Homo sapiens: one gene and its partners. The protein of the gene in region 6 purifies or fractionates together with the protein of the main gene of each other region. This does not show direct contact. Each region holds a gene or a part of one and is shown on either strand. Other genes may lie near its edges. The genes, in order: MYO6, POMGNT1, RNF166, CBR4, SLC7A11, CLEC4E and CLGN.

Region 1 (3,500 bases), on a different chromosome or scaffold from region 6:
CTATAATTTCTTATTCTTCTTAAAAATAAAAAGATGTTGAAAGATGTAATTTTGCCTTTGCAAAAATTACAACCAAGGAAATTATGTAAAAGAGATCTGACCTAACCAACTCCATCTTGCTTCTAACCTCTAAGCTGTCCTTGTTCATTCCTGGGTGTAGGCCGAACTAATCTTGGGAAAGAACTTAGTTTATTAAAGTTTAACTTTGAAACAAACATGATAATAACCCTTTCCCAAAATAAACCCCCTTCTTGCCTGGGGAACCAGTCAGCCTTTGTAGGACTAACAAATTAGCTCCAAGATTAGAAATTACGGTTTAGGAGCCACACAGCCTCCAGCTGCATGAATCTGAACCTCCTCAAATTGCTCCCAGGTATAACATCACAGTTGTAACACCTAAAATCAGTGCTCCAGATATTTTGCAGACCTTCCAATGCACCAGCTGATGCCACCTAGATAGGTAATCCGGCCCAGCCAGTTCTGTGCTCCCACACAGGAACAGAAGCAAGCAAGAAAAACTCAATTTTGACCCCCTATGATTTCATCTCCAACCCAAGCCCCTACCTACCAAATTATCCTTAAAAATTCAGATCTCCGAGTTTTCAGAGAGACTGATTTGAGTAATCATAAAACTCCAGTGTCCCGTACAGCCGACTCTACATTAATTACTGTCTCTCTACTGCAATTCCTATCTTGATAAATCAGCTCTGTCTGGGTAGTGGGCAAGGAGAACCCACTGGGCAGTTACAATATCATGTATCTGGTTAGGCTTACATTTTAAATGCATTATTTCCTTAGTATGCTACACTGCTACCTCCCAAACTGTCTTAGGCAACATTTGTTCTATGAAATGTGAATAGGTATGTCCTGAAAAAAGGATTTACCTGTCAAATGAGTTTATGAAAAGCTGTACACTATACTTCTGTATGGAGGTTCACAATGAACATACTGAGTGAAGCCTCTGAGAATCCTACAGCAAAGAAATCTACTTAACTTCAGTTACTCACAATTTCCTAGGATGATCTGACCTTGAACTTTTTTTTCAGAGTTTCCTATTAACATTCTGCAAAGATCCCTGCCCGGTTACTGACTTCGGTACCACTGTAGAACACAGTCCACAAATGAATGGTGTAACAGATGAGTTTACTATAATGTGTTTCCTATCATAATGCAATGTGTAAAGCTGAACGTATTAAACTACAGTAATAAAGATGTTTCTGTATTTTATTTGGAAAATGATGGGGAAAAGATTCTGCTATCTTTTTTCTTTTTATATTAATAGTTCTCTTTTTATCTATATTCACAATTGTCTAACAAAATACCTCAAAAATAATCTTTGTTAGCATGATTCTTTTTCATTAGGCCAAAAGAATTTTCCTTTTCTACTGATAAGGAAAAATTCGCTGGATCCTTTTCATGTACCTAGCACTATTTCAGGTACTCTGATGAGTATAAGGGGCAACTGTAAATGTAATCAAGTTACTGATTCCTACACAGCTCCCAACAATTAAAGGTTTGCCACAGATCCTTAGGTAACCCCAAAATGTTCTGTCCCTCACTTTTGTCTTGGGCCAGCTATGTAGCTGCTATGACCTGGCCAAACCACACATAAAAGCAGCTTAGCCCAGTATGTCAAAGGGGTTTGAATTCCTAATCCCAAAAGCCATAATCCCAAATGTTGAAATCCCAAAAGATCAAAATTCCTAGATTAAAATCCCTAACATCAAAAATCCTAAAAATCCCAATCAGAGGAATCACAGAAGAATTCCAAAAAGAGCAATCTCATGAAGAAAATGAATATGAACATATTCTCCAAGAACCATGTCCTAAAAGAAAAAAAGCACCTATTATTCGTGGTACAAGACTTCAAAATATAGTTAATGACTGAGAAAGACAGCCAGCTCTATGGACTATCTCCATGCAACTGCCTATAATCTGTCCCTGTGATACACTTTTTTTTATGTCAAACTTCCTTTTTAGTTTTGGGTGTTTTTTTTTTCTTTGTTTTTATTTTCACTATCTTAAATTGTTAGCATTTTTTAATTATGTAGAAATTTTTGGAGAGTTCTAATTTACTGTATTCATTTTTTGCAAATTTAACTCCATGAAAATGCATTACCACAACATTTACTTTCTGGGTAAACATTGTGTATGTATATAAAAACACTGAAACTTAATCAATGAACAGATGTCCTTTATCATACATCTGCACTTGTAAAAGATAAAATTTCTCAAGATTTCAGTTCTCTGGGCAACTACAAATGCAGTGGTGACTCACTATGGTTTTTGACTGATCTCATCAAAAGACAGCTTGTTCATCATCACAGTATTTCAGATGACTGCAGTAACAAAGCTGGGTGCACAATTACCAACCACAATAATATGTGTTTATGCATTTCACCTTTCGCCCTATTCTTTATGAATACGGTTTGTCTGCTCCTGTTATACCCATGCAACTATTGTTAGTATATGTGTTTATAGTTTCAATAAACATATATGTTTATTGCCTATATATATGTTATTGCCTATTTTATTGTGAAAAGTGGCCTATGAAGAGTTCTGTCATGTTTTTATACGTTTCTCAAATCCCCTTTTTAAAATGTAAATAAATATCTTTTTTTATTATTTTTACAGAATCCTAGTTTTGGGACTTTCATCTTTTAAGATTTCAACATTTGGGATTATGGTGTTCAAGACAGTGTCTTTCAGGATTATGACAGACTTCCGTTCAAAAAACAGGATTTAAGAGGGGATGGTGGGGGAAGAGACTGAAACAAAAAACTGACACACCATTTTACATGATCTTGAAAGACATCAAATAATTTAGACTTCACCTTTTATGAAAGGAAAGTTATAAAAGGCTTCTAGTTTAGAGAGATATCTCTAAGAAACCAGGAAAACCAGTCTGGGAGCTAATGGAATTATTATGCAAAAGGTGGAAAAGGACTTCACTAAGGCACTGGCAAGAAAAAGAAAGGAATGTACAGTATTTGGAGAAGGAATCAACAGGATCTGGTGACTGACAATATTTCAGGGATAAGAAAGGAAAATCAATTACAATTAGAATTTTCGGGGTATGTGTATTGTAGATGCCATGCAGGCAGAAAGAAAAGTTCTGGTTTAAGTCTGAGAGATTAGGGGATGGTGAGGGGTGCGGGGACGAGAGATCAAGATAGTGAATTCTGTTTTGTTAGGACACTATGAAACTGACACTCTTATAACACATTTGAATAAAGAAAATAAATATCATACACTCAAAAAATAAAAAAAGAAAGAACATCTACAAATAGGAACCTGGGACCCAGTGTGAACAAGTCTCAGTCTCTGTTGCTCAGCATCACCTCTGAGACAGCTTTACAACACTCCACAAACCATCTTGAAACAATGAAAGATCCTATAGGTGTAAAGGAAAACACCTACATTTGATGACTGAGAGTGAGCACCACTGAACTTTCTTCCAGCGACTGCATGTGAGCCAGTGATTGACTCTTTTAACCAAC
Region 2 (3,500 bases), on a different chromosome or scaffold from region 6:
TTTATCCTCATTTTTCAGATAAAGAAACTGAGGCAAAAATAGGATAGCTCTTTCCCCAAGGTTACATGGCTAGCAAGTAGCAGAGCTAAGATTGCTTCAGAGTCCATGTTCTTGTTCTTGACTGTCATGCCACACTGTGCCCTGCTCCCTGCCTCCCACTCACGTGAAAGTAGCCATTCATGTTGAGGCCGACGATGCCAAAGTGGTAGGATCGGGAAACGTCAGGGATGATGCACTCTCGGCCCCGGCGTTGTTCAGGCATCCGCATCCACATGTCCCAATCCCAGAGCTGGCAGACATGGACCACGATGAAGGTTAAGATGTTTCGAGTTGGTAGGGGACTCCAGCCCCCTCACCCTACCCTGACAGTTACCTTTTCCGGTGTAGGCCACTTGGGCTCAAGCTCCTCCTTGTACAAGGACCTCCTGAGCACCCAGCCCAGCCCAGGCATGGTCTCCACACGGTACAGTAGTGCTGGGTCCTCAGCCGTGTGTTCATACCCCTGGGGACAGGGTGCCATAGTGGGAGGTATTAGCTGAGGCCTCATAAACTCGCCTGCTAAACCCTGGTCATTCCAGCCTACCTGGTCATTCCAGGCAGAGATGCAGTACAGGCTGTCATCCTCCTCCAGTAGGTGGATGGATTGGCTCAGGAAACTGAGAGAGGCAGGGTCAAAGAGTTCAGGGAGGGACAAGGATAAATCTAGTCACACAGAGATGCTAGAATTGCTGGAGCTGGGTCTCAGGAGCACCTCCTTCCTGGAGTACCTCCTTCCCCCAAATCCCCACTGTCTCCATTCATCCACTGTACCTTCAACAGCAGCCCCAACACCTGCCATCCTACCTTTGCCCAGGCTTCGCCCCCACTTGTGAGCTCATGTCCTCCAGAAAGCTCTCTAGGACACCTCACTGACTCTTTCCCTGCAGACTGAGGGACCTCAACTGAAACCTAGAGACTCCCCTCACCTGAAAAAATCCACAGCAATGTCCAGGTCCTCTTCCAGAACCACAGCAAACTTGGCCTCCTAGAAGGGGAATGGGACATCATGGTCCCAAAGGGGTCTCTCCATCCTGTGATCTCCTTTGCCCCCAACCCTCTTCTTGCAGGCAGCATTACCCCCATTTTCCAGATGTGAAGGATGAGGCCCAGTGAGGGGAAGAGCTTGCCACGTAACAGGCCCAGACCTTATGCCCATGTTTCCCCCCTCCCAGGCCCAAGAGTTGTATCCTTAGTACTCACCGGAAACAGGTTGAAAGTGGCAGTGAGGCTGGCCTTGTAGTGCTGGGAGTGGGGTGGGAATAGGGCACATGAGCTTTAGGGTAGAAGGCAGAGCCAGGTGTCTGCCCCATCCCCACTTGCCTATGCAGTACCTGAGACACGCGGGCATTCTTGATGCTGATGGGAGTATGCTGGATGCCCCTCAGACCAAACAGTGCCACCACATCCATGGGTTCCTGGGGGACATGGCCACTGCTCACCATGTGAGGTCACTTTCCCTCTGCCCACCTCTGCAATCCAAGGCCTTCACATTTCACAGCCCTTGCCTGGGCGGTCTCCCTTGCCCGTCCCTGGCAATCACTGCTGCTCCATGTTGTACTCCACCCGAGGCACCCCCCAAGTCCTGCTCACCTCATAGTAGCCGTCAATGAAAACTGTTATCATCTGAGGAGACACCCCCTGGGCTGAAAGCAGAGAGCGCAGCATCCTGGGGAGCCCAGGGATAGGTTAGGGTCACTTCATCACCCCTCAACTCAGGTTCCCCTGTGTTTACAGCTGGGCCCAGAGTCCCTATGCTTACCCACAGAGGTGAATGCGTCTAGAATCTATTGCCTTTCTGCCCACCTCAAGAGTTCCTCCTGGAGGTAGATGACCTAAGCACCCTCCTGTTCAGTGCTGGGTATAGCCCATTCCCAGGCTTACCTGTACAGGTAATTGGGTCGGTTCCCTGCAATGACAGCCACAGGCACATTGAGGACCTTGTTGTCTGGGAGCTGTGGGAGAAATAGCGTTTAGCTCTTGCCTTATTCCCCCTTCAAACTGGGATCCCCACCTAGGGAAGACTTCTCAGGTGAGGGTAGGTGCAGACTGGAGTAGACAGGGAAGGGATAGAGGATCTTCCCTGTTCTGGGCTCTCCACACACTCAGCCCAACTCTAGCGCTGAGCTTTACTCACATGGCCTGCCCCTTCACCCCAGCCCTGTCTTTCAGAGCGCAGTGTAAATCCTGCCCCTGGTTCTCTCCCAGGCTCAGGTAGGGAAAGCCCAACCTAGATCATTCCTGGGGCCCCCCTGCTGAGCTGGGAAGGAGTCCAAACCTCACTGTCTTAAGGCCCCACTCACTGGGTCAGGGCTGAACTCGATGGGTGTGGGGTCCTTGCAGCTGCATACACTTCCATAGCCCTCAACTTTGCTGCAGAAGCGCCGGCGGCGACGGTTCAGCTCTGTGTCTGCCCAGTGGCACTCTGCCTCTGAGGGAAGGATGCGGTTGTCATGGAGGCATGGGGCCAGCAAGGTTTGAAGAGCCCCAGGCACACAATCAAAGGAATAAAGCTCCACAGAGAGATCTAAATGCCCACCCCCAGCCCAGGCCCTGCCCCATCCATGCTCCACTAACTCCACCTTCTGCTGAGCTCAATGGCACATCTGTCTTCAGCAGGACTGGGTCCCCCCAGGAAGAGAGGGCAGGTGATTTAGAATGTTTCTCCCCGAAGACAGGACCTGGCAGGAGGCAGGAATGAGGGCCATGGGGGCCCAGACACCAGTTTGGGGGCTTTTTCCCATCTCCCTGCCTACTTTCATCCAACCCACTGCCACTGGCTCCTATTTGTTCCCCACCCCACCCCATCTCCTAGGGTTCTGCTCCTCCCAGGCTCTTGATACTACAGAGTGGATGGCCTCTGATGCCGGCACCTCCTTTTCGTCCCACGAAGGCCCATGTGTCCCTCCAGCCCAGGGCAGGGCCAGCCTGGCTGCCCAGGCTCCTCAGCAGAGCCTTGGCTGTGTCCTTGAGGTGGAAGGAGCCCTCATCCTGGGGGACCAGAGAAGGCAGTTAGCCTGACTGGCATGGTTCCAGGAGACCTGGCCTCACAGAGCACGAACTATGTAGCAACCTTTTACTTAAAATAGCTCATTACATTATTGCAATAACCCTCTATGGTTACTCTCTTTCACAGATAAAATAATAACTGAAGGCTTAGAGATTCTAAGGTCATCCAGCTAATAAGTCCTTTCCACAAACCCACACGATCTGCACCTCTCTCTCCCGCCACTCTCTGCCTTCTTTTCCAACCACTCTCCTACTCTCCTCCCTTATTCTGCTCCACCTCGACTAGCATCTTTGCTGTTCCTCAAATATGCCGTGTACCTTCCCACTATAGGGGCTTTGCACTTGCCATTCTTTCCACCTGGAATGCTCTTCCTCCAGATACTCACCTGGCTCACTCCTCAATTCCTCAGCTTTCTGCTCACATATCATCTCCTTGCAGGGGCCTTCTCTTTCTA
Region 3 (3,500 bases), on a different chromosome or scaffold from region 6:
CTGCCTGGGGAGGACACAGCCGACCTCCAACACAGACAGCAGCTGGCGATTCCACACCGTGGAGCACAAAAGCCAGTCGAGGCTGCTAGAGATGCTCTGAGACATTTTATTTAAACTTTTTTTTTTAAAAAAAAGACAGCAATAATTAATGCCAAGAACAGAAAAGAATGTTGACGTGTTGCCCGGCCCGCCAAGCGGGCCCCTGCCCAGGCCCCCAAGCTCTGCCACCACTGGGGTGCCGTCCCCTCCCGCAGCGGGGCACAGTCAGCTTTGAAGGTGACAGCGGGCCAAGGCCAGGACTCTGGGTGGAGGAGGCCCCTTCTCTGCCGGCCCCGCCTCTGCTGGGAGCAGCCACAGCCTGTGGCTGGGGTGCTGGGATTTCTTCCTGGTCATCAAAGAGAAACGTACAAACCTCAAGGACCCAGACACACAGTGGGTGGCCAGGGCAGACCCCACAGCAGACCCCATGGCTCGCCTGAGCTCTGGCAGCTGCCCCACTGCTCCTTCCATCCTTGCCCCAATCCCCCAATGCTTGTTTTGATTGTTTTCTTAAAAAATATAATTTTGTAAATGTTCCATAAAAATACTATTATTCCTAGTCAAACACAGATATTGCAATATGAAGAGTAACTGCTCTGTCTTTGCTCTATAAAACGTGAAAAGATTATCACACTGGATAATATAGAAAAGATGCCAGGGTTCCTAAGTATCACAAAAGCCAGTACCAAATGCGCAAGGTGGAAGTGGGGCCGGGGCAGGGTCGGGCTGGGCAGGGCAGCAGCCTGGGTTCCTCCCGGCTCGACTGCGGAGCGCGACTCGCGCGTCGGTCCCTTCTTCCCACGAGGGGGTATCATGGCTTTGAAGAGACGGCGGCAGCTCCAGGTCCCAGCGTCCAGCCCTGCCCAAGTAGGCCGCCTGCTCGGCCAGAAGCACCGAAGAACCCAGCGACGCCGGTGGGACCAGGCGGCCCTGCTCTGGCGGCCTCGGCGGCTGGCCCGTATTCAGGCCCGGAGGCTCGGCCCCGGCTCCCCTTCTGCGCGGGTGCAGGCTCCTCCTGTGAGCTCAGTCCGGTGAGGTGCGCTCCCGAGCAGGTGCCAGGTGCGACACAGGAGCGGGGACATCCCTGACCCCAGACGCAGGCGGGTGGCTGCGCTTCCCTTCAGTTCTCAGAGAGAGACAGGGCCAGAGCAGCCTGGAAGGCGGCCTCCTCGTCAATACTGTAGTCCTGGAGACAGGAAGGAGAGATGCACCGGGCTCGAGGGAGACAGGAAGGAGAGGTCCCCTCTGCCCATCACCCACACAGGCGTGTCCACCCTTCCTGCCTCCCTCCAGCAGGACACAGGAAGGACCCAGCTCCACTGTCCCCACAGGCTCGGGGCCTGCACGGTCCTCTGGGGGGTGAGAAGGTGAAGGTGTGTCCATCACCCGCTGGGTACGGGGGCACTCGGAATGGATGGCTGCTGGTTCAGGTCGGACTCTAAGCCCGGGGTTTCCGAGGTGAGCAGGCCGGCCAGGGCTCCCTGACCTCTAACAATTTCCATCCTGAGGCAGGCGGAGCGTGGGTCCCGGACGACTGGCAGAGGGAGTGACAGCCATCGCCAGGACTGTTAGCCAGGGCCAGGAATGAACAGGGCGGCGCAGGGAGGGGCCGCACCAGGAGTGAGGAGTTTGTGCGAGGGTCTGCAGGCCCGGGGGCCAGGTGTGTGCCTGACCCGCGGCGGGTGGGAAAAGGAGACAGGGCTGGAGTGTTCGATGTTGATGAAAGTCCTTCCCGCGCTCTCTAGAAAGCTTCCAGAAGGAAGCCTGGCTCACCCTCGAGGGGTTCTGTGGGGTGGGCAGGCAGGGACCTGCCCTGTGCGGTCCATGTCCCCGAGAGGCCTGGGCACCCTCTAGTGGCCACTCAAACTCAGCTGCCATCACTCCCCACCTGCAGGCAGCCCCCACAGAACCTGGGGGAATGTGGCCACCTGAAACGAGGCTTCTGTTTCTGGCTTCCTCTGAACCCTGCGGACCCTGAGGCTGGCGAGGGGCCCGAGCAGGAGGAGGGTGGATGAGGAGGGCGTGGGGGAGGACGGTGCTGGCGGGATGCCTACCACAAAGGTGTCGTAGGAGAACTTGTGTCGGTGAAGCAGGTGCTGCAGGAAGTTGGCGCTCTTGTAGCTGGGGTCCCCCCAGGGCATTGCCGAGCAGATGGGGCACACCTGGAACAGGCACTGGGGTCAAGCCGAGCCGGACCGCGGAGAGGCGGGGTAGCCGCAGTAGGACTGGGGGCCCTCCACTGAGCCCCGTCAGTGCTGCCTCAGCCTGGGAAGGCACCCCAGACCTGGAGGCGCGTGTCCCGGTGACAAGCGAGTTATTCAGTGCGCGTCACCCTGAAGGACTCATGGACACTCCCCGGTTTCCGCCAGGTGCTGCTCGGGCAGCCAAGTTCCCACCCTGGGTCCCAGGAGGCCTTTGTGGCCTGGGCACCCCCGGACTCGCCGCGAGCAGGCTCCTGGGCCTTGTACTGTCCCCCACAGGCCTCCCCTGGCGCAGGCGTCGCTTGGGGCAGGCACTGCTCACCACGCGGTTGGGGTCGCTGCGGTGGCTTTCCACACAGTGCTTCACCAGCTCCTGCTGGTCCAGGTTGCGGGCACCACAGTACGGGCAGGCGAAGGTGGACCTGTTGGGGATGTTGCTGGCGGGGCGGGGGTAGAGTGAGTGGCACGGCTAGGTGTCTAGGGGCTCTGCCTCCCCGCTTCTCTCAAACACAGGCGTGGCCCCAGGCCTGCCCTCTGTAGGCTGCAAGAGCGTGGCAGTGGCTGGGTGCCCCCCGTGCCTCTGCACGCCATGGCCTCCTGAGGACACACCCAGGACCCTCGTCCACCCCACACAACTAGGCCAGCCAAACGGCAGAGACTCTGCTGGCGCTGCCCTGGCAGGAGCCGTCTCTCGGCCCATCCACCTGCTGGGAGGCGATGTGTGGGCCCGGCCTGCGCCCTCCTCCTGCTCCCCACAGCTGAGCTGTCCCTACCCCAGGGGGCCTGGTGGGTATGCCAGGGAGGGCAGCACAGGAGCCTTCCTGCAGGGTGGCAAGGAAGGTCCACTTCCCCAGAGTGGACCCGGCCCCGGGTGACTCCCCCAGCCTCTCTGGGATGGGGCACTGCGCTTGCTCCCAGAACGAGGAAACCGCCGAGGACAGTTCCTCTCCCTTGCCCGGCAGCGTGCCTACCTGGGGATAGGCTGTGATGTGGGCACCACGGGGACGAACTTGGGGCAGTTGGCCATCTGCTCCTGGACCTTCAGGCAGGACGAAATGTGCACTCTCATCTTTGCCAGGGTCACCTAGGAGACAGGGCAGGGAGGGCAAGGCGGTCCTGAGAATCTGGAAGGGCCGTCCTGGGGAGGCCGAGACCTCAGGTGTCCAGGACCAGAGAACTGTAAGCAAGCGTCTGTGTTGCCAGCAGCAGGGGGACCCGGTCCCTTCTGCTGCTAAAACAATCTCAGGCACTGAGCAGCCA
Region 4 (3,083 bases), on a different chromosome or scaffold from region 6:
GGGGATTACAACTCATTTTGTAATTTGCAGATTATTCAGTTATAGGGGTGATTAGCATCAAGGGCACACTTTGGCTACTGATTAGACAATTATACCTACATGGGTAACATGTGCTAATCAAACCTGCTGATGCTACAAATGTTAATTTCTGTCTTTATAAAAATATGTCTCAAAAGAACAATGTGTGACAAATTGTGGTTTTTTTTTTTTTGGTCTAAGTTACATCAGTGTTGTTTTGTTTAAAAAGCCTTCATGAGATACAATTCACATACCATATAATCACACATTTAAAATACACAATTCAGTGGTTTTAACATATTTAAATACATGTGCAATCATCCCCCCAGACAAATTGTGTTTTCTAAAGGATGTGTATCACTTACCTTTGGTTACCTCATAGACTGTAGCAATCTTAGTGTATAGACATTTTGCAAGTCATATAAACAAGTATTGATTTATATATTTTGTCTCAAAAGTGGAAAAATTATATTGTCTAATTATGATGAATTATTTTCTTGTATCAAGCTGAATTTTCTAAAAGTTAACCTTGTGGGCTGTTGCCAAAATAAGAGTATTTAGAGGACACTGATTAGTTGTCAATACTTTAGCAAGCCCACTAAAGATAACTATATTCCTTTTGCATGTGCTTGGGTGATCAGTTTTTATACAGGTTGCAAAACATAGTATTCATTAAAGACATGAATTTAGAATTGATTTCTTTGAGTGGTATTTCTCTTGATTGAGCAGCTAGACAAAATAATCTGCAAATTTAAATGTGGCGCATTTGACTCATTCTTGAGAAATTCTCATAAGTGAAGAGGATTAGCCCTTAAGGTTTTAATACCTGGTACAGTAGTGAACCGCACAGATTTCATGAACTTAGGATGTGTTTTTTATTCATGAAAAACTTAGAATAGTGAACTATTAATATTTAAAAACGAGAAATACAACATTTAAAAAATTAAGAGTATTTTGCATTAGTGATTATGATTCTTATCCCAAAATTCTAGAAAGTAATAAATTCTGTATGAATAAGCATAAAAAATAAATAAATATGCAATAACATTAAATTAAATGTCTTTACAAGAAGCAGTGAAGGCACTGGTCTTAAGTGAGAATATTTGCCTGGGAGTAGAGATAAAGACACAAACCGAATGTGAAATACCAGGTAATAATTATTTTGCATTAAACTCTTTTTATCGGGAATAGTATGATATTTTCAGTGTCACTCCATTCATGTTGATTTGGAGCTGACAGTTATTTTGTGTAAGCAGAGATTTAATTTTATATTGAAAGTCAGTGCAAAATTATGAATAGGATATACTAATAAATACAAAGTAATAACAAAAGTCAAAGCAGTGTTCTAAATAAAAATTCTGGGTTCCTTAAAAATTATTTTAAATTTATCTTTGAAATAGTTTTCTTAGATTAATCTCAGGATATGAGAAAGTCAATTAAGTGTGAGTAAAGTTAGTATCATTAAACAAATTGTCTATTAAATGCAAGACGTGGTAATATACAGAATTTATCAGGCATTACCAAGTCTAGGCACATATAGGAAATGCAGCACTCAGAATGGTTTCAATGTAGTAGTTGATGCTTGTAAGGTAGGGGAGCTTATTCAGACATAGTAGATAGTTTCTCTAATGCTGTCTCAATTGCTGGCCTTTGGCTACCTGTACTTCCCCATTATGGCAGCCCATTCAGTCTTGAGTTTTCTTCTCTGGACACCTTATGCTCTGAAATCATGAGCGAGGCTGATTCAATTGGTGATTTGGGTAGAAAGCAGTATGTTTTGCTGACATTAAGATGTAGGTTATAGATAGGTTTAGCCTTTAAGTGTATGTTTTTATACTTTAAAATAAGAAATATAACCTTTTAAGCTATTCCACCTCCTCCCCCAGCCTATCTCAAACTGGTGGAATATATGGAGAGATCTTGAAAGAGGTAAAATAAACCTTCACTGCTCCACTCCAGGTGAATCCGCCCACTCCCACTGACCTAGTAGAATTTGTAATTTAATACTTACCTTCTATTTCTGAAATCAGTTGTGAACTGTTGCCTTATGTTCAGAGGTTTAAGAACCTCAGTGAATTCATTTTTTAAAATCTGCTATTCTGAGAAGCATTGAATGAATTCTTAACAAGAAGACTCATCTGTAGCTGTTTGCTGACTCCTATGAGCCCATAAGGGTTCTGTGCTTAGCATTAACAAAATAAGGTTTATAGGTAAAGCCAATGTATTAATTTTTTTTTGCATGGAGGGCTTTAAAATTTGTGCTCTTTTTCATATTTTATTCATATTCAATTTATGGTTTGTAACTGCTTTTTAGGGAGATAATTATATGTTATAAATTAGTTTTGGGGGGAATAATTGTGCAAAGAGGATAATTTAATTTACGTGCTTCTGTTATTCAGAATAAAGAGAGAAGACTACGCTGCATATTCAAGAGTTGTACCTTAACATTGGTGAAACATTTTTTCTAAGATTTTCAAAAGGAATATGTGTAAATTGAGAAATCATAACCACTGTCCTAACTTGGTAAACAAACTGTTCTTAAATAAAGTATTTAATGATTTTAAACTTTCTGATGTTAATTTTATCTTTCTCTGCAACTATAAGAGTAGAGTTTAAAAATTTGTCTTTCAATTCAATTGTAAAACTTTTGAGGGAAGAGACCATACTGTGTTCATTCATTTAGCTAATTAAGTAACTCAACAGATACTGAGTGGGTACTAAATATTTTGTATTTGTTTTGATACCCACACCTTGCCTACTCATCTCTGAGTATATTGGATATATGCAGTAAAATATTCTTTAGTCATTACATTGTGCCATAGTTGGGGAGATCATTGAGATAAATCTGTTCTGACTCTCAGTTCATATCTTGGAATATTTCTTGATCAGATTCCTTTGGCTTTTTATGCGACTTTGATGCTTGCTTTCACTTTATAACTGAATTTGCAAAGTGAATCGACTATTTTCTCTTAGGCAGTATGCTTTCAGTTTGAGTAATTGTTAATACCAGCAATTTAATTAGAAAGCTTTGGCCTAATAATCCAAATGGAGATGGTATCAGTATT
Region 5 (2,877 bases), on a different chromosome or scaffold from region 6:
GGAGAAAGAAAGGTGACAGGTGATGGAAAGCCCTATGTGTTACATGGAGGAGTTTGAATTTTATCCATCCACAAAATAAAATATATATATATATATATATATAAATGTGAAACCATTGAAAATTTTGACCTCATTTGAGTTTCAGGAAGAACATTCTGGGGAAACAGTTGAGAGTGTAAAGAGATAAAAGACAAAATTCTTGTTAAAGGCCTGAAATGAAAAGATTTTGAACTTGTACAGGTGGAAATAGAAGAGGAGCTAGATATTTCAGACCAGAGGACAGATGGATGTAGACCATGAGAAAGAAAAGAAGAGTGTTTCCAGGAGACTGGGTCTGCCAACACTTCCAGTTTTTAGTACAGGAAACTGGTGTAAAGTGGGATGCTCCAACAAATTTGGGGAATCAGTAATAGATAAATTCAATCAATCATTAAAACTAAGGCCTTCAATTTAAATGAATATACACTGCTTAAAAAGAAAGCAAAACATGACGACATTTATTATGTAAACTATCAAATGTTTATTTAAATTTCCATTTAAAATATTTTCAAGTAAAATATGTACAAAAATGGTTATAAAATGGTTGAAGCAACTAGAAGCGTGACAGGTATAATACATATAAATACAACCAAAATTCAATTCAATGCAAAGTTGAATGACATCATATTGCACCAAAATTTATTCCATACAAAAGCACATGCATCAAGAGTTTCCATAAGATGAAAACAAACACACTTACTTCATAGCATCTTACCACTTACTTACACAAATAGCCCATAAACACCATCTGGCATTGTGATTGCAGTACCAGAACTCTCCCCAGAGGGAACTCATTTAGCTATAGAAGAATCCATTTTATTTCACATATCACATGCTTGTGCAGGCATCAGTGCTAGGAACCCTAAGAAACAACGCAATCCACAGATGAAAGTCTCTCTGCACCATTTATATCTTCATAGATAAATATCTTAGTTCTAATATGATTGGAATGTGGATGCAGAAATAAAATGCAGTTTTGCTCTTTAAGAATTTTATCAATGTAAGACATTGTATTAAATTTGTATAAAATACACACAATCCCCTCTACTAAGTTTCATGATCACAGTGCCAGAGTGAAGAAACTCTGCTTGAGTTGAGGACCAGTTAGTTAGGATATTGAGGATCACTCTTTTTCAGCTGGATCTCTCTGTTCTTGTGTTTTCAATCACTAGACCAAACCCACGATGCCCCTGAAATTCTGGGAATGGTACAAGGTCATAACTAATGCATTCCAGATCCAAGTTAGGGATTTAGCTGGTCTATAAATTACAGTTTAAGCACAGATCAAAGAGATGGCTGCCAGCATATCCTTCAAGGGTAACCTGAGTTCCAAGACTTTCCCACTGGGCTAAATGGACTCCACTTGTTGCAAATTATAAATGCTTGTCACAGAATATGAAAAATATTTAAATACATTCATAGATAGTACCTAATAATATGTTAACATAAACATAACAACACACATATTATTTTTCTACCCCTTGGCAACTGAAAATGAAGTTACCATTCCTAGGCCAAATTTTTAGACAAAGCTTTCTAAAACCATCTTTATAAAGTAAATTCAGATATGCTTACAATAAAAAGACATAAAAGATTCATCCTGAGATGAATTCTGAGTCAATAACTAAAAACCATTTCTACCAGTGCATCACTACCATGTAATCCATTCTACGCAAGCTCTACAAATATTGAGTCAAATCCTGTCTGTCAGAAAATGAAGACCCAATAAGTTTGCCGAAGTATTCAGTACAAGAGGCCATTTGTCTTGCCTTTTTCTGACATGTGCATACTATAAAATCACAGGTAGCCAACATTTAGTATCAGTAAAAAACAACTACGTTTGTTCACCTGTTTGGCATAGGGAGAAAACAATGTATCTCATAGCATTAAATGATACAGCCTTAACACATATGATGCTCATATTTGCAAAGTTCCCAAATGTTGAGAAGTTCTAGTGAAAAGTCATACTATTGTGCAAAGATGAAAATTTGGAGCCAATGTCTGTATTCAAAATAACCAAAATATATTTTAAAGCAAAATATATCCTGATACTACTATAGATTCTAGGAATTGTCCTAAAAGAGTAAAGTGTTGTTTCCTTTCTGAACATGAATAACATCAAAGGAAGAACCCAGTTCTTAAGACTTAAGTAGGAAATTTATAGAAATTTGATTTATACCAGTAGTAATAACATTCATAAGGAAAAACTATTAGGTAACAATTTTCTCCAAGAAGAGGATCAGATTACTTAAAATTGTTGGAGAATTCTGGTTGTTTGTGCAATAATCATAGTGATTTACATTGCTTTTCTTCTTTCAGAGCAATAAGAAAGTTATTTGGGGTAGTACTTGAAATAATTCATATACACAGTCATTTAACATAGATCGTTTCTAGTCGAGTATGAGCATACATTCATGGGAACAATCTGTTTCATTCTTCAAAGTATGTTTGTACTTTGGAATGAAGGAGAAATTCTAGGGAAAAATTAATTCAGAAATCTTTTGAAATAAGACAGTTCAAACCTAGGACCAGGTAACCACATTGCATTGCCTCCCAGTGTGATATGACTGTGCTTCCAAGTATGCATCTAATAAAGTTAGTTAGTAGGAAAATTTGATGTCTAAATTTTATAATACACATTTAAGTCAGACCACTCACAACCCAACAAATTATACAGCTTTAACATGCAAAGGCCTAATAGGTTTTCCCACAAGATGCTGTAATAATACCCTGTCACACAAGGTACTCAAAATACAGTCACCACTGCAAAAGAGATACCTGTGCATTACTCTTTTTTTCCCCTCTGGCTTTCAGCACGGCCTTCTGAGGCTTTAACAA
Region 6 (2,551 bases):
AGTATTATTAATCTTTATTTAGCATTTGAGGAAACTAAAACTCAGCAGAGTTAAGTGACTTAGCTAATGAGCAGTTCTAAGAGTACAACAGAGATACTCTGACATGTTAGAAATGCTGCTTCACTACCACACTGTAACATCACTGCAGGATGCACCTAAGTTAATACACACTCTGTGCAGAATAAAGAGAGCTAAGCCGATATGAGGTATGAGTGTGAAGAAAACAAATCTATCAGAATATCAATCTTCCCCATAACTTCTCATTCTATAGCTAAGGAACAGGACAGAATAGAAAAGGAACAAAGGAACAGGACAGAATAGAAAGTCAGAAAGATCCGGTTCAGCTTCAGTACTCACAAACTGTGACTTCGACAACTAGTTTAGCTTCCTGAGGTTCCTTTTCTTCTTCAATAAAATGGACATTATAATACCTACCTCGCAAAATTGTTGTGAGGTTAAATAACACAAATGTAATTTGCCTAGTATATTAGGTTACTTTACCTCTTTTTGCTGGGATTTTAAGTCTCCTATGTCATTCTTTTTCAGCTTCTGGGATGTAGGGGAGCCCAACAACATAGCTACCCTGGAGGACTGTGCCACCATGAGAGACTCTTCAAACCCAAGGCAAAATTGGAATGATGTAACCTGTTTCCTCAATTATTTTCGGATTTGTGAAATGGTAGGAATAAATCCTTTGAACAAAGGAAAATCTCTTTAAGAACAGAAGGCACAACTCAAATGTGTAAAGAAGGAAGAGCAAGAACATGGCCACACCCACCGCCCCACACGAGAAATTTGTGCGCTGAACTTCAAAGGACTTCATAAGTATTTGTTACTCTGATATAAATAAAAATAAGTAGTTTTAAATGTTATAATTCATGTTACTGGCTGAAGTGCATTTTCTCTCTACGTTAGTCTCAGGTCCTCTTCCCAGAATTTACAAAGCAATTCACTACCTTTTGCTACATTTGCCTCATTTTTTAGTGTTCGTATGAAAGTACAGGGACACGGAGCCAAGACAGAGTCTAGCAAAGAAGGGGATTTTGGAAGGTGCCTTCCAAAAATCTCCTGAATCCGGGCTCTGTAGCAGGTCCTCTTCTTTCTAGCTTCTGACAAGTCTGTCTTCTCTTCTTGGTTTCATACCGTTCTTATCTCCTGCCCAAGCATATATCGTCTCTTTACTCCCCTGTATAATGAGTAAGAAGCTTCTTCAAGTCATGAAACTTATTCCTGCTCAGAATACCGGTGTGGCCTTTCTGGCTACAGGCCTCCACTGCACCTTCTTAGGGAAGGGCATGCCAGCCATCAGCTCCAAACAGGCTGTAACCAAGTCCACCCATCCCTGGGGCTTCCTTTGCTCTGCCTTATTTTCAATTGACTGAATGGATCTCACCAGATTTTGTATCTATTGCTCAGCTAGGACCCGAGTCCAATAGTCAATTTATTCTAAGCGAACATTCATCTCCACACTTTCCTGTCTCAAGCCCATCCATTATTTCTTAACTTTTATTTTAGCTTTCGGGGGTACATGTTAAAGGCTTTTTATATAGGTAAACTCATGTCGTGGAGGTTTGTTGTACAGATTATTTCATCACCCAGGTATTAAGCCCAGTGCCTAATATTGTTTTTTTCGGCTCCTCTCCCTCCTCCTACCTTCCGCCCTCAAGTAGACTCCAGTGTCTGTTATTCCCTTCTTTGTGTTTATGAATTCTCATCATTTAGCTCCCACTTATAAGTGAGGACATGCAGTATTTGGTTTTCTGTTCCCATGTTTGCTAAGGATAATGGTCTCCAGTTCTACCGATGTTCCCACAAAAGACATAATCTTCTTTTTTAAGGCTGCTTAGTATTCCATGGTATCTATGTATCACATTTTCTCTATCCAATCTATTGTTGACTCACATTTAGATTGATTCCATGTTTTTGCTATTGTGAATAGTGCTGCAATGAACATTCGTGTGCATGTGTCTTTATGGTAGAAAGATTTATATTTCTCTGAGTATGTATCCAGTAATAGCCCATTCATTTATTGCATAAAATTCTACCAATACTGATGACGTTATTAAAGAGTACATCAATAACGTGGCAGCTTTCATAACCATGTTTCTTGCACAAAGTGCCATGAGGAGACCCTCAAAATTCAATCACTGGACACCACGTGTAATCACTGAATGAGAAAATTCAACTGGACAAGTGAATATAACACATCAGCTTTCATTGCAAAAGTTTATTTCTCTTAGGCATTGTGACAATCTGGTTTTCAAATCAACACATCTTTAAGCCAATTATTTAACCTAAAAGTAATTTTAAACATACTTTCAACTTTCTAATTCCCTTTTTTAAAATCATGAACATCAATAAGGAGATGCTGAAAGACTTTTTTTTTGTTCATTGGTGTTTCCCTGAAGGTGGCTATAATTTAAGTTTTATTTCTAGATTGAAAGACATATGGAAATATTATTCCATATTATTTCTCCATATATATTTAGAATTTAAGTTTAAAGACAAGTTTTAAAGACAGGTTTATAAAACTAAACTTGTCTTTACAGTT
Region 7 (3,500 bases), on a different chromosome or scaffold from region 6:
AAACTTGGAAACTTAATAAAAACACACACATTTTTAAAAGTCTAAAAATGTATGTACAATTATAGACCAAAAATTACCCCTCTTTGATTTATAAGACTGTGTCTGGTTCTTGCATTATTTTTCTTAGAAAGAAAAAAAATGATATAAGAGCATTTGTGATTCAAAAGTGCTCATTAATGAATATTTTGAGTTGACACAATACTGGAAAATAGCCAGTTTTGTCGAATTGAATTTTCTTGGAATAGGCAATACCTATCATTTTCAAAACAGAAGATTTTACACAAACAAATATAAGTTGATTTTCTATTCTAAAACCAGTAAAGGAGTAAAGTCTAACATATAACTTTTGGGCTATAGGTAGCCCACCTAGCTTTGCATTGTATGTGGCCCATAATCTAATTTCAGGAATGTCCTGATCTTAACATGGAAAATTGTAACACAGAGAAGGCCTAACTCAGTTTTGCCTTGTTGTAGCTTAGCACTTATGCAGTGCTTTGCTGCCTTCCTGGCCAAAAGTTCTGAGAGCTGATTAGTGTACCCTGAGAAGGGTTTGTGTGAATTAAGCATGCAGTTTTCAAAATGAACTTTAAATCTTTACAATAACTGCTGCAAGTAAGAAAAGTAGCTGATGAGTATTGTGCATTTCAAAATAAATAGACTACTCATTTTGTGTTATGTGTCATATGCAGTTTCAAATATGTCATTTTGAAAATACAATATTGACATACCCTATTGAGACAAACCACATTTTATAATTTCATTGATTAAAAACTCTTTCATAGAAAAACCAAACTAATTCAGCTTTAAGAGTGACTTAATTAGACACTATAGTGTTTGCTATTAGTTTTCACAACTTTAGTTAAGAAGATGAAATCATTCTTTGATAGAAAAAAAAAGATAAATGAGCAGGCATACATATATAGTTGAAGATATTTCCTGATTTAAAATTTTTATTTTTCCCAAGTCAGGCTTCCTGGATAAAAATTATTGTTCACAACTGCTGATAAATAATTCTTAGGTCAATGTTTTCTGTTTTAGTTTAATTTGCTTTGCTTTATTTTTTAGGAAGATGGGAAATTGAAGAGTTGAAAGAAAACCAGGTACCTGGTGACAGAGGACTGGTATTAAAATCTAGAGCAAAGCATCATGCAATATCTGCTGTATTAGCAAAACCATTCATTTTTGCTGATAAACCCTTGATAGTTCAGTAAGTGTTGCTATGTTTTTGAATACTTTTTCTGAATTTTGTATTAGCTTTGGCTTCTGAATATAGCTTGTATTTTGAAAATGGATGTGAAAATCTAGATCTTCCTTTTTCGTTTCACTTAGTTAAAACACAAATGTGCATATACACACAAACATATCCATGCTTTCAATAAAAAGCAGGTAAATGATAAAATTATACAAAGATCAACCATTCTTATGGCCTAGTACTAATATTTATATTTGTTTATTTCAAGGAGTTGTATGTGGGCTATTAAGCAGCATATTTCCTTTGGTCTGAGTGCTTGTATTGACTAAATGAGGAATAAATAGTTTGGCTCTCTTAAAAAAATTTAAAAATTATGTGATATATACTGTAATATATACAATTCTGCTGTCATAAACTATATAATGCATAGTAAAAATCACCATTTTTGTTTTACTCTTAAAATTACTTGTTATCGCCGGGCGCGGTGGCTCACGCCTGTAATCCCAGCACTTTGGGAGGCCGAGGCGGGCAGATCACGAGGTCAGGAGATCGAGACCATCCTGGCTAAAACGGTGAAACCCCGTCTCTACTAAAAATACAAAAAATTAGCCGGGCGTAGTGGCGGGCGCCTGTAGTCCCAGCTACTTGGGAGGCTGAGGCAGGAGAATGGCGTGAACCCGGGAGGCGGAGCTTGCAGTGAGCCGAGATCCCGCCACTGCACTCCAGCCTGGGCGACAGAGCGAGACTCCGTCTCAAAAAAAAAAATAAAAAAAAAAATAAAAATAAAAAAAATTACTTGTTATCAAAATATTAAACAATATATTCAGAACAGAATAATAAAAATTGCTATTAAACCAGTGATAAGATTCAAAGGCAGAAAATTTATTTCAAAAATAAATGTTTATGAATACCAGTGTCTTTCAAGCAGGGACCCCTTTTAAAGGTCACATTCTCACAGATAATCCTTTCTTTCAACCTCTCCACCTCCCCACCATGCCTGGCATGGTGCCTCATGCCTCATGTGTGTAATCCCAGCACTTTGGGAGGCCTAGGTGGGCAGACAGCTTGAACCCAGGAGTTCAAGACCAACCTGGCAACATGGCAAAACCCCGACTCTACAAAAAAATTTTAAAAATTAGCCAGGCATGGTGGTGCCCGACTGTAGTCCCAGCTACTCTGGAGGCTGAGGTGGGAGGATCACCTAAGCCCAGGAAGTCGAGGCTGCAGTGAGCCAAGGTCACACCAGTGCATTGCAGCCTGGGTGACAGAATGAGATCTTGCCTCAAAAAAAAAGAAAGAAAGAAAAAAAAAGAGGACCAAGAATTGAATAGCAGTCTTTCATATGTTTAAAAACAATTCAAAGGAGAGTGAATGTTTGTCTCCTCTTAATATTGATAAAATGAAATGGGGTAAATAAAATGAAGAGATTTATATTCAATGCTATAAATGCTGATTTACAACATAACTTTACTATAAAGCTGCTTTTCCCAAATTGTATACATGTTAATATATATGAATATAATTAAAGATGAAGAATATCCTAACTCAAAACGTAGGAAGTAAAGGCCTGGCGCAGTGCTTCACACCTGTAATCCCAGCACTTTGGGAGGCCAAGGTGGGTGGATCACGAGGTCAGGAGATCAAGACCATCCTGTCTAACATGGTGAAACCCTGTCTCTACTAAAAATACAAAAAATTAGCCGGGTGTGGTGGCAGGCGCCTGTAGCCCCAGCTACTCGGGAGGCTGAGGCAGGAGAATGGCGTGAACCCGGGAGGCAGGGCTTGCAGTGAGCCGAGATCATGCCACTGCACTCCAGCCTGGGCAACTGGGCAACAGAGTGAGACTGTCTCAAAAAAAAAATAAATAAATAAATAAAAATAAAATTAAAAAAGGAAGTATGTTAGCTCATTAAAGACTGAGAAGTTCTACATATGAAAACCTGTTTTCAGCATTACTACTGTGTTTCCCAAACACATTTGATCACATAAGTTTATTTTCCCACCTAACAGTAATTGCTATTTCATGGAACAATTTGAGAAATGATACTCTAAAGAAATTAAGGTTACCATATACTCTGCATATGTCCTTGGTTTTCCTATGACTGGAAGTTTAGCAGTAGTCAAGCTGTATGATAAACATTTTGTTGATCCTCTAATCCATTGTGAATCATTTATACTAGGTAAAAGTTAATTATTTGAAAACTCTAAAAGTTTGCAGTATAAGAAATGGACAAGGTGATTGAATCTAGGCATAATGGAACAATGAAACTGTGTTCACATTTATGCAGCCACTGTACAAAATTGTTTT

Evidence for each region.
Region 1: the proteins of CLEC4E (region 6) and MYO6 purify together in Homo sapiens (affinity purification with mass spectrometry, with the first as the bait; one large-scale study listed by BioGRID). This does not show direct contact.
Region 2: the proteins of CLEC4E (region 6) and POMGNT1 purify together in Homo sapiens (affinity purification with mass spectrometry; one large-scale study listed by BioGRID and IntAct). This does not show direct contact.
Region 3: the proteins of CLEC4E (region 6) and RNF166 purify together in Homo sapiens (affinity purification with mass spectrometry; 2 studies listed by BioGRID and IntAct, with this or other methods). This does not show direct contact.
Region 4: the proteins of CLEC4E (region 6) and CBR4 purify together in Homo sapiens (affinity purification with mass spectrometry; one large-scale study listed by BioGRID and IntAct). This does not show direct contact.
Region 5: the proteins of CLEC4E (region 6) and SLC7A11 purify together in Homo sapiens (affinity purification with mass spectrometry; one large-scale study listed by BioGRID and IntAct). This does not show direct contact.
Region 7: the proteins of CLEC4E (region 6) and CLGN purify together in Homo sapiens (affinity purification with mass spectrometry; 2 studies listed by BioGRID and IntAct, with this or other methods). This does not show direct contact.

Annotation. Positions count from the first base shown.
Region 1 is NC_000006.12:75,881,739-75,885,238, reverse strand, and holds part of MYO6 (unconventional myosin-VI), read right to left. Parts: coding exon 3,421-3,500; intron 1-3,420. UniProt on the Homo sapiens protein: Myosins are actin-based motor molecules with ATPase activity. Unconventional myosins serve in intracellular movements. Myosin 6 is a reverse-direction motor protein that moves towards the minus-end of actin filaments.
Region 2 is NC_000001.11:46,191,935-46,195,434, forward strand, and holds part of POMGNT1 (protein O-linked-mannose beta-1,2-N-acetylglucosaminyltransferase 1), read right to left. Parts: intron 3,028-3,500; coding exon 2,910-3,027; intron 2,718-2,909; coding exon 2,619-2,717; intron 2,468-2,618; coding exon 2,340-2,467; intron 1,992-2,339; coding exon 1,921-1,991; intron 1,706-1,920; coding exon 1,630-1,705; intron 1,455-1,629; coding exon 1,371-1,454; intron 1,282-1,370; coding exon 1,240-1,281; intron 1,025-1,239; coding exon 966-1,024; intron 657-965; coding exon 584-656; intron 503-583; coding exon 374-502; intron 290-373; coding exon 164-289; intron 1-163. UniProt on the Homo sapiens protein: Participates in O-mannosyl glycosylation by catalyzing the addition of N-acetylglucosamine to O-linked mannose on glycoproteins.
Region 3 is NC_000016.10:88,696,409-88,699,908, forward strand, and holds the end of RNF166 (E3 ubiquitin-protein ligase RNF166), read right to left. Parts: exon of another isoform or gene 3,326-3,500; intron 3,325-3,325; coding exon 3,212-3,324; intron 2,678-3,211; coding exon 2,563-2,677; intron 2,202-2,562; coding exon 2,094-2,201; intron 1,708-2,093; coding exon of another isoform or gene 1,526-1,707; intron 1,226-1,525; coding exon 1,160-1,225; 3' UTR 93-1,159; downstream 1-92. UniProt on the Homo sapiens protein: E3 ubiquitin-protein ligase that promotes the ubiquitination of different substrates. In turn, participates in different biological processes including interferon production or autophagy.
Region 4 is NC_000004.12:168,987,090-168,990,172, reverse strand, and holds the end of CBR4 (3-oxoacyl-[acyl-carrier-protein] reductase), read left to right. Parts: coding exon 1-23; 3' UTR 24-2,583; downstream 2,584-3,083. UniProt on the Homo sapiens protein: Component of the heterotetramer complex KAR (3-ketoacyl-[acyl carrier protein] reductase or 3-ketoacyl-[ACP] reductase) that forms part of the mitochondrial fatty acid synthase (mtFAS).
Region 5 is NC_000004.12:138,163,597-138,166,473, forward strand, and holds the end of SLC7A11 (cystine/glutamate transporter), read right to left. Parts: 3' UTR 501-2,877; downstream 1-500. UniProt on the Homo sapiens protein: Heterodimer with SLC3A2, that functions as an antiporter by mediating the exchange of extracellular anionic L-cystine and intracellular L-glutamate across the cellular plasma membrane.
Region 6 is NC_000012.12:8,532,805-8,535,355, reverse strand, and holds the end of CLEC4E (C-type lectin domain family 4 member E), read left to right. Parts: intron 1-546; coding exon 547-718; 3' UTR 719-2,051; downstream 2,052-2,551.
Region 7 is NC_000004.12:140,403,649-140,407,148, reverse strand, and holds part of CLGN (calmegin precursor), read left to right. Parts: intron 1-1,065; coding exon 1,066-1,207; intron 1,208-3,500. UniProt on the Homo sapiens protein: Functions during spermatogenesis as a chaperone for a range of client proteins that are important for sperm adhesion onto the egg zona pellucida and for subsequent penetration of the zona pellucida.